2 separate regions of the Homo sapiens genome follow, and region 1 is linked to region 2. A link means that fine-mapping ties the variant in region 2 to the expression of a gene that starts in the linked region. Tissue or cell type: aorta. Region 2 holds a variant in brackets; the other region holds the start of a gene. All regions are shown on one strand. Distances are between the middles of the regions.

Region 1 (8,237 bases), 380 kb before region 2:
CCAGGTCCCCAGACACGCCTAATCACTGGGTTGTTGCATAAGGGCTCCTAGCTGGATTAATCCCGCTCTATACAAATGCCTCATCATAGCAGCACATTGAAAGCATAACAAAATTTGAATACATTATCTCTGCCGGACTATATGCCAGTCACTCCCTCCCCCCAGCACACACACACCCATGTGCTTATATGCATACACACAGGAACATGCACGCACTCACACAGCCACATCCACCCACTGTGGAATGCCTTCATCAACATCAGCCAAGGACAGGAAACAAACTCAACCCTTGGCACCCACAGGAGGCAGCTACTGGCTGTTGGATTATTCCCTCCGTGCCAAAGCTAGGCTGATGCGTCTGGAAAAGGGGTGTGAACCTCGAATGTGTCTAAAGGCAGACACAGCTTCTTGAGGAGCCCACAGATGCTACAGCAGCTGGGGCTTGGTCGGGGGATGATACGGGGTAGGCGGTGGAGTGGGGATACGTAGGGCTCAACTTTAGTATTTATTTGCCACATCAATCAATTAATCAGCCAAAAAACCCTTATTAGGGAACTGAATAAAAAGCAAAGCAAAACGAAGAATGGATTTCTTCTTCAGAAGCCTTTTATCATTGGAATGAAATAATTTTTCTTCTGTCTTTGTTGGACAAAATATGATCTCTTGTTCTTTGTTGAAGTGCACGTTCTCTGAAAGTCGAGAGGAATAGATGATAGAGGGGAAGAGAAACATCAATATTTACAACAGTCCTGGGAGTGTTATCATGTTATCATTCGCATTTTATTGATGACATACTGAGTCTTAGGGTACCAAACTGACTTGCCTCATATATGTGGAATCTGAAGATCTCAGTTCAGGTCTAATCTTTCTGACAAATCTTTTTCCACCTTAGTAGGCTTGGCATGTTTTGAACCTCGTGGGATTACAGAAGTGAGCCTCAATGCCTAGGGAGACTCCAGAAGACAACTCCTCTCATTCCTTAAAAGCCAATCTGTGGGGATTGAGGTGAGGAAGGAGTGAAGACTGGCCCTTTGGGCACACCCACCTGGAATCAGGCAAGGTTTACTGGAGCCACTCTGCCTGCCAGCAGAACAGCCCAGGAAAAAAGCCTGGGACCTTTGCAAATGCCTGAGCAGGACTTTGCAGGGGACAGAGTCAGCAGGATTTTCACCAAACGACATCCATCTTAATTGGTAGCATCAGACTCATGAGGTCTTCTATGGCCTGGGCATCACAGACTCTCATTACTGGTCGTACTGCCAATGGCCTCCTTTTATATATAGTTGATGAATTTGAGGACAAACCAGAGAATTGCCCTTGGCCAAACCAAGCTGTCTCACCCAAGATTTTTCCCCTCCTTGGGGAAATACTGGGGCAAAAAGCACGTCCAGGGAAACCAATCTGCCTGACACTGGCAATTAAATGCTCCAGGCTTGAAGGGACATGGCACTTTTGCACATGGCTCATTGGCTAGATGTACACACACTGCCCCACCCCAGCAACAAGGGGGCCAGTAAATGCAATCCCACCATGATCCCAAAAGGGGAAAAATTGGAAATATTTGGTCATCAGCACTAAGGACAAGGGAATGGGGAGACCACAGAAGGCCAGCAGAACTGTAAAACTGACAGCACCGAACTGTCCTTAGAACACAGCCTTGAAAACTCCCTCTTCTGAGGGACTGCTTCCCTTAACTGAGCTGCTGCAGATGGAAACCTAGCTAGATCCTCATCTTCTGCAGTCTAGTCCCTCACTGTGGTTTATCACCTCCCAAGCTGTCCTCTGCTCTCTTTCCCTATCTTTGTGTTGCTAAGCCATGGACTCAGTTTAGCTGGCCCTGAATTACAAGATGGCACCTTCCCTGGAGTGGAGAAAAGTCCGGATATTTCAGGATGCCTTGATTTGAAGCCTGTTTGACTCCAAAGTTCTCTGGTTTACTCCCACCTGTGGGAAACGTGAGGCTAGATCTCCACACACATGGATTCCAAAGTGTCATGATCTGTGACGTCATCTGTCGGACCGTATTGATCAGAGGCTCAGGGACAGATGACCCTATTTAGGCAAGGAAATGAGTGGGTGAAGCAGCAAGATTCACCTTTCCCAGTTTCATCTGGGGGTTGTTTTGCCAACATTGCCATCTGTTGGGCCAGTGCTGGCTACAGCAGCCAAGCTTCAGACATCACTGCATCTTTATCAATGACCTTGGGACCACAGGAGGTGACCTTCTGACCAAACAGCAGCCAATGAAGGAATCTTAAAAGGCACATCACTTTATATTTATTCAGTGGTTATGTCATCACTTAATCCTCACCACAACCTTGTGAGTTCAGTAGAATTTGTGTTTTCATTTTATCTGTGAACAAATGGAGGCAGAGAGTTTGAGTAATTTACAAGTAAGTGGCAGATCCGGGGGCTGTGCCTAGACAATGTGGCTCCAGACTCCTTGCCCCTCCCTGCCTTCTGCTGCATCTTGATTGAGTCTAGCCATCTATTTCTTTAACACACACTAATTGCTGTCTCCATGTTCCAGGCCCTGTGCCAGATGCTAGAAATACATCCCCATCCACTGGATCTTGGCATGGTCCATTGCTCAGTGTCCTGCTATGTTACGTGTTACATAATGCATTTATTCCGGTATTTAGCCCATGGAAAATAATGCTGAAAGACATTGTATGCATGTTTCTACAACAAAACTATGTAACTTATGTTTCTTTTATTGCTTTGGCTATCAGGAAGCTCTTATCCAAATCAGAGCAAATACATTAGAATTTGGGCTTGTCATTTCAGTTTGCTGAACTTTTCCTTCTGGCCCAGATTTTCTATTTTGGTTCATAAATTCTATTGCACAAATGTCCTTTATTGTAAAACACCTTAAATTCTTTCTAAGGGAAGGCTGCATGGAAATGATACAGTAAGGTCTTCCCTGCATTTTCTTAGATTCCTATTAGGGAAGGCAGACCTAGATGTCCCTCTTACCCTCAGTCCCAAAGCCCCCCATTTATAAAATCCCTTAAGCAGTGACTACTGCTGTTCTGAGTACCTGGAGGTAGTTCAGAGCTTCTGAAAGGTAACATCCATATACAAAAAGAAGTTCCTTCCGATCCAGATCCCAGCTTTGGTGCCAGATGCACATTTGAGGAGTAGGTGGCTAGTCAGACTCTCACCTGAGCAGTTAATAAAATCTATTGCCCCTTAATGGAATTTTTTCTGCAAGCTCGAATTGATCTGTCATCTTTGTGATTTGTGAGATGGCAGGGAAGCACCAAACACCATCATGACTTGGGCCACAGTGGGGGGAAAAAAGGAAAAAAGAAAAAAAAAATCCACTGCCAAGCCTTGCCAGGCGTAGAAAGGGCTGGAACTGCTGGGGCCATTTTATCTGATTTATTGGAAATAGAGTGGATCTTATTAACATTTTAATAAAGAGAATCTTTTTGCACTAGGCTGGAAGTGGCCGCCAGTCCCCCGTGCAATTCCATTCTCTGGAAAAGTGGAATCAGCTGGCATTGCCCAGCGTGATTTGTGAGGCTGAGCCCCAACAGTCCAAAGAAGCAAATGGGATGCCACCTCCGCGGGGCTCGCTCCTCGCGAGGTGCTCACCCCGTATCTGCCATGCAAAACGAGGGAGCGTTAGGAAGGAATCCGTCTTGTAAAGCCATTGGTCCTGGTCATCAGCCTCTACCCAATGCTTTCGTGATGCTGCTGCTGATCTATTTGGGAAGTTGGCTGGCTGGCGAGGCAGAGCCTCTCCTCAAAGCCTGGCTCCCACGGAAAATATGCTCAGTGCAGCCGCGTGCATGAATGAAAACGCCGCCGGGCGCTTCTAGTCGGACAAAATGCAGCCGAGAACTCCGCTCGTTCTGTGCGTTCTCCTGTCCCAGGTAGGGAAGAGGGGCTGCCGGGCGCGCTCTGCGCCCCGTTTCTGCATTCGGATCGCCCGGCACGGGCAGGGTGAGGGGGCTTTCGGGGGGTCGGGGCCTCCGGTCGCGGCGGCGAAGACAGATCGGGGCTCGGTAGGGAGGTCATTCCGAGCCCAGAGATCCTAGGCACCCCCCACACACAGGCTCCCACTCTGGCGTGCGTGTGTGTGTGTGTGTGTGTGTGTGTGTGTGTGTGTGTGTGTGTACGTTCGTTAACGGGAGGAGGAGAGAGCTCCCAGTCCTTTTTTGCTAGCAGGGGCGACATTCTCGCCCACATCAAGTGGGGTAACTTTGGTTCCCTCCTCCGGAGGCTCGGTGCATTGGAGAAAGACTCAGTTAGAGGCGACTCCAACGAGCCGCGGTTTTCCCCAGCCCAACGCCCAGCGGCCGAAGCGCTGCTCGGGTCCGGATTGCGGGATGCGGGGCTGGAGAGGCCGAGCAGGCACCACCGACTTCCCAGGGCGCCCGGGCCCCCTGGTACAGCCCGGCTGCCCGCTGGAAGGCGCCTCGGGGCAGCAGAGAGCCTCAGCCCGGCTGCTGCTGTCGCTCAAAGGCGCCGGCGCCGGCCGCACCCGCATCGGGGTCCTTTTGCTCCCAGACCCCGGGCCCGAAAGGGCCGGAGCGTGTCCCCCGCCAGGGCGCAGGCCCCAGCCCCCCGCACCCCTATTGTCCAGCCAGCTGGAGCTCCGGCCAGATCCCGGGCTGCCGCCTCTGCTGCCTTCCCTGAGCGGGAGCGGAGCGCAGAGAAAAGTTCAAGCCTTGCCCACCCGGGCTGCAGCTGCTTGTTAACCCTCAGAGCGCCACGGCGCGAGGGAAGGGCACGCCAACCAGGAGAGGGGGCGAGGGAGATGCGGTCCGCCTGCAGTCACCTCTGCACCTCAGAGATTTCGGGAAGTTTGAGTGCAGGAAAGCAGCGCTCCGAGGCCAGGCCTGGGGTGCTGGCCGCTGCGGGGGGCACGCCCTGCGCTGCTCAGGGGCCTGTGGTTTCGGAGAGCACCCCGATCCAGTCCCCCATCGCCTCTCTGGCAGGCGTTGGGACTTGGAGTGAGCTGGCAGCCTGCAAGTGGGTGGATAAGAGCCAGGGCAGGGCAGGGCCGGGCAGAGTAAGGAGGGAAAGAGACAGGGAGTGCCTCAGGGTGCTAGGAATGAGTGTTGAGTTCCTGGCCGGGGTAGAGGCTCAGGTGAGAGTTTGCGGGTGAAAGGCAGGGGAAGGGAGTTGGGTTCCCAGGTAGGGACTGTCTGGGATGGGGAGACTGGTGCAGACTTCTAAGGGAGACCACTGTTAGAGCAATGTTGGGTTTAGACTTTGGAAATGGGCTAACATCTCAGAAATGCAGTGATGGGTGATAGTACCAGGGGAGATTCAAGTGCCCGGCTGCTGAGCCCGCTCCCAAGCTCCTGACTTCTTTCTTGGATATACAGTCCCGATTAAGGACTGCCCAGTTATAGCTCCTTTTCTACCAGGCTTTTCTGGTTGATTATCTTGGGGTCCCTACAGCCTTGAGTCTTGCCATGGATCCCAAGCCTGGCTGTGAACCAGTTTTCCAGATGTCCTGTACCCTAGAGACCCCAAGGCTGTATGTGTGTACATATACCCCAATTTAGCAAGGCGGTTTGGAGCATGCCTCAGACAGAAAGGATTCAGACAGATCCTTCCTGCCATCTGCTAGTGGTACCAACCCGGGCAAGTTGTTTAACCTCTTTGAGCTTCCAAGTTCTCCATTGTAAAATAATCTGCTGCCTTCCTAGGACTGCTGAGTGGATAGGATTGCATTCAACAGGATGTCCTATGCAATGCATGCCAGTCTGGGAGCTGTCGGTGTCTGAGAGCACTTACCATTGCCTTGTCCAGGACTTCACAGTCCTCTTTCTTTCTTGGCAGGTTTCAACCTCAGTTCATATTCCAGGGCTTGCCCAAAGTTATGCCTCCTTTAAAGCAAGACAGACCACGTGACAGGGCCCCAGGATCGATTTTTATGCACTAAGGGCTCTGCGCACGGTTCTTTTTGCAAATGAACTGGTGTGTCTCCTCACCCAGGGCCAGGCTGGCACAGGTGGGTTCTGAAGGCTCACTCTATTTATTTAGATGAAGGAAGCAGAGATTTTGCTGTGAATTGAAATGATTGCCCTGAGAGGCTTATTTCTATTTTCAATTGTTATGCATATCAGAGCAAATGTCCACATTAGGATAGTAATTGATATCCTGGTAGCAATAGTACCTCACAGAGAAATCATTTTGATGCAATCCAGTTAACCAGCAAGAAGTTCACGTGCAGAACTCTGTGTGCCATAGAAAAAAGTGGGGAAAGTCTTCGAGGCCTTGAGTCGACGAGCAAAAACACAACTTTCCTGAGGCAGAGAGAAAACAGAAGGGAAAAACAATGTAATAAAACAAATTAGTCACTCGGCCCTGGTGGTGTTCAGGCAAGCCTGTATGTTTTTTTCCACCACAGTTGTAAAGCATCGGGTCTGGCTTTGGAAGCCATCAATCTCTGTAAGCTTATTGGCTTGGTTGTTGTTTTAGGCATTTTGGTAGGAGGTGAGGAATTCTAAGCAACAATGACTGGAAGCTGGCACCGTTGAACAGTCACCTCTCCTATCCCCTGGGGTGTTTTGGGAAAGTCTGTCCCAGAAGTGGCTTCTGGAATTTGCCTATGATAAGTAATGACTGTGAAACAAATCAAGAAAGAAATGAGCAAGAAATTCCATGGTAAATGTGATTCCCCTCCCTATTTGGGTAGCACTTACAACTAACCAAAAGTTCTAACAATGAGTGAGTAATCCCCCAAGAATTAGGAATTTAGGGAGGGGTTCAGGCTTGGAGGACAGTCGCTTGGGAGTGACTGAAAATGTTCCATGGAATTCTGAGATTTCGCTATAAAGTGGGGAGTTCTCTCTAGGGGTCAGAGTCTTGATTTTCAGGATTTTCAATGAGAATCAGTGTCTTATAGTGCTCCTGCAAATTTGTGTGTTATGTTTTAAGAGCAGTGTTTATTTGCAGAACTTTTTGGATGAGGAAAAGGACACAGGGTTGAAGAGGGTGCTGCCCCCTCCCCCCCTAGGGTCAATACATGACAGCCTGTAAGATTTCCAGAGCACTAGGGAAATGGAATATGTAGTGAAAGGAGTCAGTGATAGAGTTCACCTGTCTGAATATTTTTTTTTAGCAAGTCCCAAAACAGGTTTAATAAACTGCAAAGCTGAGTATGTAATCTGGAATTTGTGTAATTCCACAGTCTATACTAAAAGCCCCAACAGTCATCTTAGCTGATCGCTCCTACTCTGCCTCCCTCCCTTCTCCCCTTTTCTATCTTTAGCCCTTGGGTTTTCCGTTAAGTAAAATCTGTTTACTTCCAGAAGTATCCTCTATGTGTTATAGTGAAATTGCCCAACAAACCAACATACTCAATAACTGCATTATCTAAAAGCATCAGCACTTGGATGTGTAAACTGAGCCTCAATCTGAAGTTCAATGTTTAGGTTAAAGTGTAGCTAGGTTCTTGAAAACATCCTTATTTCCTTCCAAAAATACAATTGCTTGGGGAGTCTAGTTAATTTATATTTAGTGGAATGTAGGAAAAGGACAAACTATGGATTTAATTTACACCTGAATGACAGTCATATCATCTACGTAGCCAACAGTGTTTCTGTGTGCGCGTCTGAGTGAGTGTGTACATCTCTGCATTTTGATCTTGTAATACCTGTTGAAAAATTTCTCCAGAAGAGGGCTCCATCCACAGCATTACAAAATTCTGAATCTACAGCTCATTTTAAAGAACTTCAATGCAGCAACTCCATCAAAACAAAACTATTCTCCTTATTCCACATTAATTGCCACAATCACCCCCAAATGAGAAATCCTGCCATTTTTCACTGTATTTATTTCTGTGTCTCTCTCTTTCTTGCTTTCCTTCTTTTGCTCTCTTGCTTTCTCGCTAGCTTTCTTCTTGCTTTCTTTCTTTTCCCCTATTGTAGTTGGTTCTGTTCTAATTCATTCTTTGACTCTGTATCCCCTCTGAGTATTGGAGCAGGGAAAATTTCAAAGATGTTTGTAGACGGTGCAATACGCAATGTGAGGAAGTTCTGAAATTTCCTGGCATTTGACTTTGGTTGGACTTGATTTCATTCTTTAGGTAGCCAAAAGGCAGGAACAGTTCTGCCTGTGGAAGGAGATAACCTTCCCCCTTACATAACCACCCAGAAGGGTGACTCCTGAGCTAGGTCCACTCACTTTCCATCACTCATTGAAAAGGAGAAGGAAATATCCCCCTGTCATCCAATTACAATAATCAGCTGGACAGAATCAAACCAAGTGAC
Region 2 (8,504 bases):
GTCAGGTTATATTTGTCCTTTTCCTCAATTGTTCCTACCTACCTACCGACTTACTTGGCTATTTTCATTCATCATTAAGTGATTGATGGATCATAGTTGCTAAGAGAAGACACGGAAATGAAGGAAATCAACCCATTCCTTCATTGATTCATTATGTTTAGAGAGCTACCATGTATGAGGTATTTTCCAGGACTTTATGATACCTTAAGCTTACATTCTCGTGAAAGAGGCAGACAATAAATAGTATAAATAACAAAAACATACTATGGGATACGTTTTAATAATAAGAAGTGCTAAGGAGAAAAAAAATAGCAGAGAAATGTCAGGGTAAACATGTATTGAAATGTTAGATGGGCTGTCCAGGAAGGGGCAGATAACAAAGGTGACCTTTGAGTAGATGCCAGAAGGAAGTTAGGAAGTTATGCAGGGGAGCCTTGGAAATGTGGGGGAATTGCACTGTAGGCAGAAAGTACAGCAGATGCAAAGGCCCTGAGGCGGAGAATGCCTGGGGGATTGAGGAAGAACTAGGAGACCAGTGGGGCCGAGTGACTGAGTGAGGGTGAGAGTAGCACAAAATGCGTACAACAAAGTATGTTATGGAGAAGGCTGTAGGTTAGAACAGGAACTTTAACTCCTAATTAGGTGGTTTTCAGTAGACGAGTGACACAAACATAATGTTATACTTGGACCTTTGCTGTGTTGAGACCACTGGGTGTGGGAGATGGGTGGATGAGGGATTGGGAAATCAGTGAGGAGCTTACCACCGTAACCCAGGCAGAAGATCATGGTGGCCTGTGCCAGAACGAGGCCTTCCTCTCTTTCTCCCTCCTTCCTTTCATCTTCACAGATTATTCTATATTAGTCCATTCTGACACTGCTAATAAAGACATGCCCAAGACTGAGTAATTTATGGAAGAAAGAGGTTTCATTGACTCACAGTTCAGCATGGCTGGGGAGGTCTCAGGAAAGGTAGAATTATGGTGGAAGGGGAAGCAAACACGTCCATCTTCACTTGGTGGCAGGAGGAAGAATGAGAGCTGAGTGAAGCGGGAAGCCCCTTATAAAACCATCAGATCTCGTGAGAACTCACTATCATGACAACAGCATGGGGGAAACTACTGCCATTATTCAATTCCACCCCCACCGGGTCCTTTCTACCCCATGTGGGGATTATGGAAAGTATAATTCAAGATGAAATATGGGTGAAGACACAGCCAAACCAGATCATAGTCCATGTCTACTTCATTCAAGAGAATGAATGACTGAATGACACTTAATTGGGTCTTTTGATATTAGCATCCAGTATTTTGTCATCTTCTGAGAGGGGCTACTTCTGGAGACAGTGACACAGAAAACCAGTGCTCTTGATTTAAGCAGAGTGGATCAGTAAGAGGTGTCTCTTTCATTTGTTTAGATTATGATATTTATTCAAAGAGAGGAGCAGTGAACTGTGGTTGAGTTTGTTATTTTAATGAAATTACACTTGCAACTATTGTAGGTGTCTTTCTATGTAATGGATGCTTTACATTCTCTCACTTTTTTTCCTCCAGACAATTCTAGACAGCAGGCATCATGATTCCCATTTTATAGATCATCAAATTGAGGATCAGAGATACCCTGCAAAGTCTCATATGGCTGAGTAGCAGTACTCTTTACATCTGAACCCAGGACCACTCTGACTCCAAAGCCAATATTCTCTCTGCATATTTAATAGCTGTTCTTTTTAAAAAATTGTATCTATTAGTGCATATTTGATGGTGGATAATGTATATTTAATAAACCCACTGAGTCATGTAGCTGTACAAGCATTTAGGAGATTATGCCATCTAGGAAATTAAATATTATCAAGTGTTGTCACACTTGAGCATGAACAAATACAGACTGCTGGGCTCTATCCCCAAAGATTCTGATTAGAATGGCTCAGGCCGGGTGCAGTGGCTCACGCCTGTAATCTCAGCACTTTGGGAGGCCAAGGCAGGTGGATCACCTGAGGTCGGGAGTTCTTGACCAGCCTGGCCAACATGGTGAAACCCTGTCTCTACTAAAAATACAAAAAATTAGCTGGGCATGGCGGCACACGCCTGTAATCCCAGCTACTCAGGAGGCTGAGGCAGGAGAATCACTTCAACCCAGGAGGTGGAGGTTGCAGTGAGCTGAGATCACACCATTGCACTCCAGGCTGGGCAACAAGAGCAAAACTCTGTCTCAAAAAAAAAAAAAAAAAAAAAAAAAAACAAGAATGGCTCAGGTAGGGGCCAAAAATCTGCATTTCTAACAAGCTCCTAAGGCTGCTCATGCTGCTGATCCTGGCACAGCACTTTGAGAATCCTTGGTCCACGCCAATCCCATCATTTTTGCAAGAACAAATTGGAGGTCAGAGAGGTTAACACTATTTTCAATGATCAGTTAATACCCCTCCCACCTGCATTAACTGTAAGAGAAAGCTTGAATGACAGAGATGCACGACTGTCAGAAATGGAAATGTAGGGTTTTTTTGGCCCCTTTGCTTGTTTTAATTCAAGAGTATAAACCATAGGTAATGTTGTGCTCTCACTTTCTCCTGATTTATCTCCTTTTGAGCACTTAATGAAGAGGAACCCCACTCATTCACACACACACATTTTATTTCTCCTGCCCTTTTTCTTTCCTTTCCACTTTGAAATTTCTGTTGCACTTTGTAGTTGTCCAGAATATTTTCAGAAATACCTCCTTGTGGGTGAATCTGCTGCAAACAGGGCTGATGAAGTCCCTAATGGTTGTTACCCAGAGCCCTACTGAATCAAAAGAAATACTTATTTTTTCTAAAAAAGGAATCAGTGGTGGGTTTGTGAACCTATGATTAGAAACATCCTGCGGGGACATCTACTTGTTCATATTTAATGTCATTTACTAGTAGTGGAGCTTACGTGCAGTTGGTTGTAGCAAACAGCTCTTTGGTTCTCCCCATTCTTTAAGGCGAAACTTAAATGTAATTTCTTAGCATTTTGTGGCTGAAGCTCAAACCAGATGGCTCCTTCTTTTCTTTCCAGAGCACTTAGTTCACACTTCTAATGCGTAGAACATGCAACATCGTCGCCTAATTTTAAATGGCTTACTCACTGGCCAGAGTCATGATAAATAAAGATGGTGTGGAACGTTTCTTCTGTTTCATGCTCATGGAACACAGCACAATCTTTGGGGCTCAGTTTACTGAGTATGAGACAGCAGGACAAAGTAGTAAGGGGTGTGAGCTTCGAAGCCAAGCAGGTTGTTTGGAGACTAGGTTTTTCTACATCTACCACACAGCTTCACTGTAGGCTCAGTTTCTCCCTCTATTAAGTGGAGAAATAATAGTAATATCACACAGAGTTGTAAAAAGCTCTTAAAATGATGACGTCATGCTTGCAAAGTCTTAGCACACTGTTCAGCTCATGGAAAGGGCTGAATAAATATTAAATATAAACCAGACCTCATGAGCACATTCAATCCCCAGGGAATTAGTCTGAAAGAAGGTGAGCCCTCAACTTCTACAAGTAGTGCAAATCGAAAGCCCTTCCTCTCACATATGGTAATCCCCAGGGGCTTGTACTGTCATGACCCATGTTGCTTCTGGGTCCTGTGCTTGAAAGGCTGTCTCTTTCCCCATCTGAGTCAACCGGGCGGTAAAACGTGGCTCCTGTACCAGGTTGCACAAGAAACATGCATACACACATATCACTGAGCAAGGTGAATGCCACTGAGGGTTCGGGGACCAGGGGACACCTGTGTGATCTTCTACCACCTTTCCGGCCCTTTCCTTTCTTCCCTTCTTCTTCTACTCCCAGTTAAGCTTTCATTTTCCAATGCTCTTCAGCAATCGCTATTTTACTCTCCCAAACTTCTACAGCCAAACCCAGCAAGTGTTCAGTTCAGCAGAACAAAGGGTCTTGCTCTTTGCTGGATCTACCTTTCTTTCTTAGAGGGGAGTTGGGGTTGAACAACTGTTTCGTTCATTACAGCTATTATTAATATTTTCAAAGTTATTATTAATGAAAGAGTGAGTAACGCTGCCTTATTCTCCTTTTATTTCTCACCCACTCTTTTTGTGTTCAGATCACTAGATTTTAATTTTACGCCCTTTCCCCAGCCCAGGACTAGGTCTGTGTTACCCAGGACCATTTGAAAGTTGAAAGAGGAACTCATTGGTGATACACTGGCTTAAAAAACTTTAGGAATTCAGAAAACTATCCAAGAATAACTTATAAAATTACAGATGAAATATGTGTTATAGTTTAAAC[A/G]CAATATTTTTCTGAGTTCTTTGGATTTTTAAGTACTTAAAATACACAGTGACTATCTCTTTTCAATTTTCCAAATATAGCATCTAAATTTAGAGAGATGTTAAAACAATTTGGGGGTTGTTTGGTTTCTTTCCTTTTTTTTTTTTTTTTTTTGGCCCCTTTGCTCAAAGAAATAGTGCTTTGCTTTCTTCTAATGAAGTAAGCCCTGGTCCAAGGAAAATATAAAATAAAATCGCTATTTTCCTACCACCTTTGGGCTATGTAATTCCCATTTCATTTTCCAAGAGGCTAAATTTTCAAATGGTTTCACTTACACAGTGCAGAAAAATTAGACATCTTCGTCATTTGGGGGAAAATAATGACAGACTCTCTACAAGAAAAAACTATATATATATGACAAATCATATTAAAAGATAACGGATCACTTTAAGTATGGGAAACAGACCTTGAAGACAAACAGTTTTGCACCCGAACTTGATCTAAGCATGATTCCCAGCTAATTGTTTGGTTCTAAATTAAATTATTCCTTTTGATACCGAAATTATAGATACAGTTCCATTTGGCACTTCAGGGTATATTTATTTTCTCTGTAAGTGCTTGTCCATATATTTAAAGACTACAGATAATGGATTTTTAAGTGTATTTAAAAAGTTAAGCCTCTTGAGAATTTATTTTAAATGGAAAATATCTCCCAGCAGATTGTAATTTAAAAAATTAAAGGCAATACAATACACATGCATAGAGATAACATTCAGGTGTTTGTGAATCATTTTCCCCACTCTGCTGATTGTCTTTGTGGTTAATCATGGAACTGATGGTGCAGAATACACTGTGGATGAGTTTACTTGCCTGAGCACTTAGGTGGCTTAGAGCAGATCTCTTGCAAAATGCGAGAAAAAATATGACCTTGGCCTACAGCAGTGATCAACAAACTTATTTTGAAAAGGATTAGAAAGTAAATATTTAAGGCTTATGAGCGAGATATTCTGTTGCAACTATCCAACTCTGCTGTTGCAGTTCAAAAGCAGCCATATACATGTAGGTGAATAGTGTGGCTGTATTCCAATAAAACTTTATTTACAAAAACAGTAGTGGGCCGGATTTGACATGCAGGTTGTAGATTCCAGACTCCTGGTTTGGAGGCCTGACTTCACAACTTTGTGTCATCCTATAGGAGTATGAGTTCAGCTCCTGGATTCAGCATCTCAGTTAGGCCCACTCTAGTGAGTTAGCAGAGCAGCCTTCTTTACGCAGCTGCCATAAACAAACCAAGCAAGCCATGAAGCCCACGCTTCAGTGTCATAATCACATTTCCCTTCCACATGATCTGTACACACCTCAAACCCCAATCCTCACAAGTGGGATTAAGAGCCTCAGGAAGAGCTCCAAATAAATCCTCTTCTCCTGTCCATCTCACCACAGAAAAGCAGATGAACAGAAAATCAGAAAGTCAGTAACTTGTCTATTCCTCAGAGTTAGATGTCAGTGTGATACCTGACATAGAGACAATCTGACAGATCACAAAAGTCTGATTCATTTATAAAATATCTGGTGAGTGGCTACTGTTTGTCAAGCTCTGTGCTAGTGCGAGAGATACAAGGGTTGCTGGGATGGCCCGGTCTCTGCAAGAATGGAGGTTTTATTCTAGTGAGAGAGACACAACATAGGGAGGAATCCAAAAGACAGAAGGAGGGTTTGCCCTGAGTTTCCTGTTGGAAATTGGGACTCTGGTAAGCAGCTGTGTGATAACAGAAAGAAACATCAGCCTCATCTGTATAAGCACGTCTTCATTCAATAAAACACATATAACAGGCCTTTGCTAAACACTCGAGGTAAAATGGCAAACAAGACACTTTCTTCCCTCAAGAAGTTCACAGTCTGATAAGGAAAAAAGCAAAAAGAACAAGTAATGACAAGTTGAACTCCTGAATATTCTGACAGATCAGGCAATTCACACACACAAAAAAAGGAAATAGAATTGCCGATATTATAAAACAATCTCTAACCTTCCCATTCATTGAAAAATTTTCAAACTAATACTACACTCTCTTCCAACCATCAGATTGGCCAACAAAAATAAACATTGTATTATCAACCGTTAGCGTGAGGAGACAACTCTTAGAGCCCAAATCGATAAAAAAAAAAAAAAAAAAAAAAAACTTAGCATCTAACTAAATTTTAACTGACGTTTCATTTGAATCAGCACTTTCAGAATGGCTCTGAACTACTTAAATATATGTATAAAAGCCAGGTATAAAGGTATTTGTGGCCGACCATGGTGGCTTATGCCTGTAATCTCAGCACTTTGGGAGGCCAAGACGGATAGATCACTTGAGGTCAGGAGTTGAAGACCAGCCTGGCCAACATGGTGAAACCCTGTCTCTACTAAAAATAAAAAATTAGCCGAGTGGTGGCCCATGCCTGTAATTCTAGCTACTTGGGAGGCTGAGGCAGGAGAATTGCTTGAACCTGGGAGGCAGAGGTTGCAGTGAGCTGAGATTGCACCACTGCACTCCAGCTTGGGCAACAGAGGGAGACTCCATCTAAAAAAAAAAAAAAATATATATATATATATATATATATATATATATGTATATATATATATTTGTATATATATATGTATATATATTTGTATATATATATTTGTATATATATTTGTATATATATATTTGTATATATATATGTATATATATATGTTTGTGTATATATATATGTATATTTACATTTACTACTACACAGTTGGTAATTAATGAAACGGAAAACCTCAGTGTTCAGCAATAGGGAACTGCTTTAATGAGAGCAGATAGATCCATACTAAGAGATAATATGCAGTCATAAAAAAGCAATCTATATAAACTGATGTAAAAAGTATTTAATAGCTATTAAGAGAAAACCTACCTACTGAACTGTTTAAGTGTATATATAGCTTGCAAATTTGGTAGAATAATTTAATAATCAAAATGTGTGGCTAATCGGGGAAGTCAGGGCTTGTTGAGATAGTAACAGGCTGCATCTCCTATTTCACTTCAGTTGATTCCATTTTTAATTATTTTTGTATTTTAAAATGACTATTAAATAATATGAGTTAAAGGATGTATACCTATTTAAAGACTATCCACTGAGAAATCTCACCCTTAATTCTAAAGGGCGCTGCAATTCAGTGATCAATAGAATGACCAAATCTCCACCCTCAAAGTTCCTTGGTTATTTTGAAAACCGTACTGCTAAAAAGAGAAAAAAAAAAGTGTCATTCTTTTCTGCCTGATATCTTCCCAGCATATGTAAAGTAGTATTCCTGGTGATAGTATCTGAAAATCAACATAATCCAAAGGTCCTCACTTTGTAATGTTTGCAGTAAGATTCCAGCATCTTAGCATTTAACTGTTTTCAGATTACATCCATTTAAACATCTGTGATTCATTATCGTAAATATCACAGTTGTGGGGACCATATGCTTCAGCTTGCAGCATATATGTGTGTGTGTGTGTGTATGTATATATATATATATATATATATATATATATATATATATATATATAAAGAAAAAGCACGAGCAATAAATCTCAGGAACCTTAGACTTGCCGTGGGTATGTGCAAAAAGAACATTTCCAAACACATGGGGCTGTCTATAATCACAGTAATGTACTTGAGATCCCATGTAAGAATTATTCAATTGCAAAAGTTGCCACTTGTGATGGAAAGCTATGATTTACATTTGGCTTGTGCACTTCCCATGATAATTCAAATAGGGTGGAAAGCAGCACAAAAGCCTTCTGCTGCATTGGCTTTTACTTCTTAAGGAAATATGTGAGCGCTATTGTTGTCGAGTGGAGAAATCACAGAAAAATGAGATACCTTTAACAAGTGGCAAGGCACTCTTGGCAGGCATCCTTCATTCCCATGAGACTGGAGCTAGAGATGATGCCATATGGCCTAAGGGATGTAATAAAAATCACTTGGCCACTGGAGGATGAATAGGCATGGCCTACAGGGCTGATTATTTTCTTGCTTACACCAGAAAACCCACGTATGCACACAAGAATTAATTGTGCTTCATGTATTGTAAGCCAAATCATTGTCTTTTAATTTCCTGATAAAGTCTTGTCAACTAGACAGAACCAATCTGTAATCACAGCTGATGAGTATCTCACACACTGCAATTAGGGAGGAGGTAAATGAATTAATTGGTTACAACCAAAAGGAGTCTGCTAATATTTTTTGATTGCCAACTCTCTTCTAGGGCTAGCA

What was found. PIP is the estimated chance that this variant, and not a neighbour inherited with it, causes the effect.
Region 1: it holds the start of CDH13, and the variant in region 2 is fine-mapped to the expression of CDH13 in aorta (GTEx, PIP above 0.99). The same link has a PIP of 0.9 or more in tibial artery.

Annotation. Positions count from the first base shown.
Region 1 is chr16:82,623,257-82,631,493 of GRCh38, forward strand. It overlaps CDH13 (cadherin 13), which reads left to right and starts at 3,713. Exons shown (of 14, transcript NM_001257.5): 1 at 3,713-3,881. The coding sequence starts at 3,837. RefSeq lists an enhancer at 5,798-6,997.
Region 2 is chr16:83,007,929-83,016,432 of GRCh38, forward strand. The region is part of intron 2 of CDH13 (cadherin 13); the gene reads left to right. Among named protein-coding and RNA genes, the nearest start is that of MIR8058, 320 kb to the left of the region's middle. The variant A/G (reference allele first, on the strand shown) is at 4,257.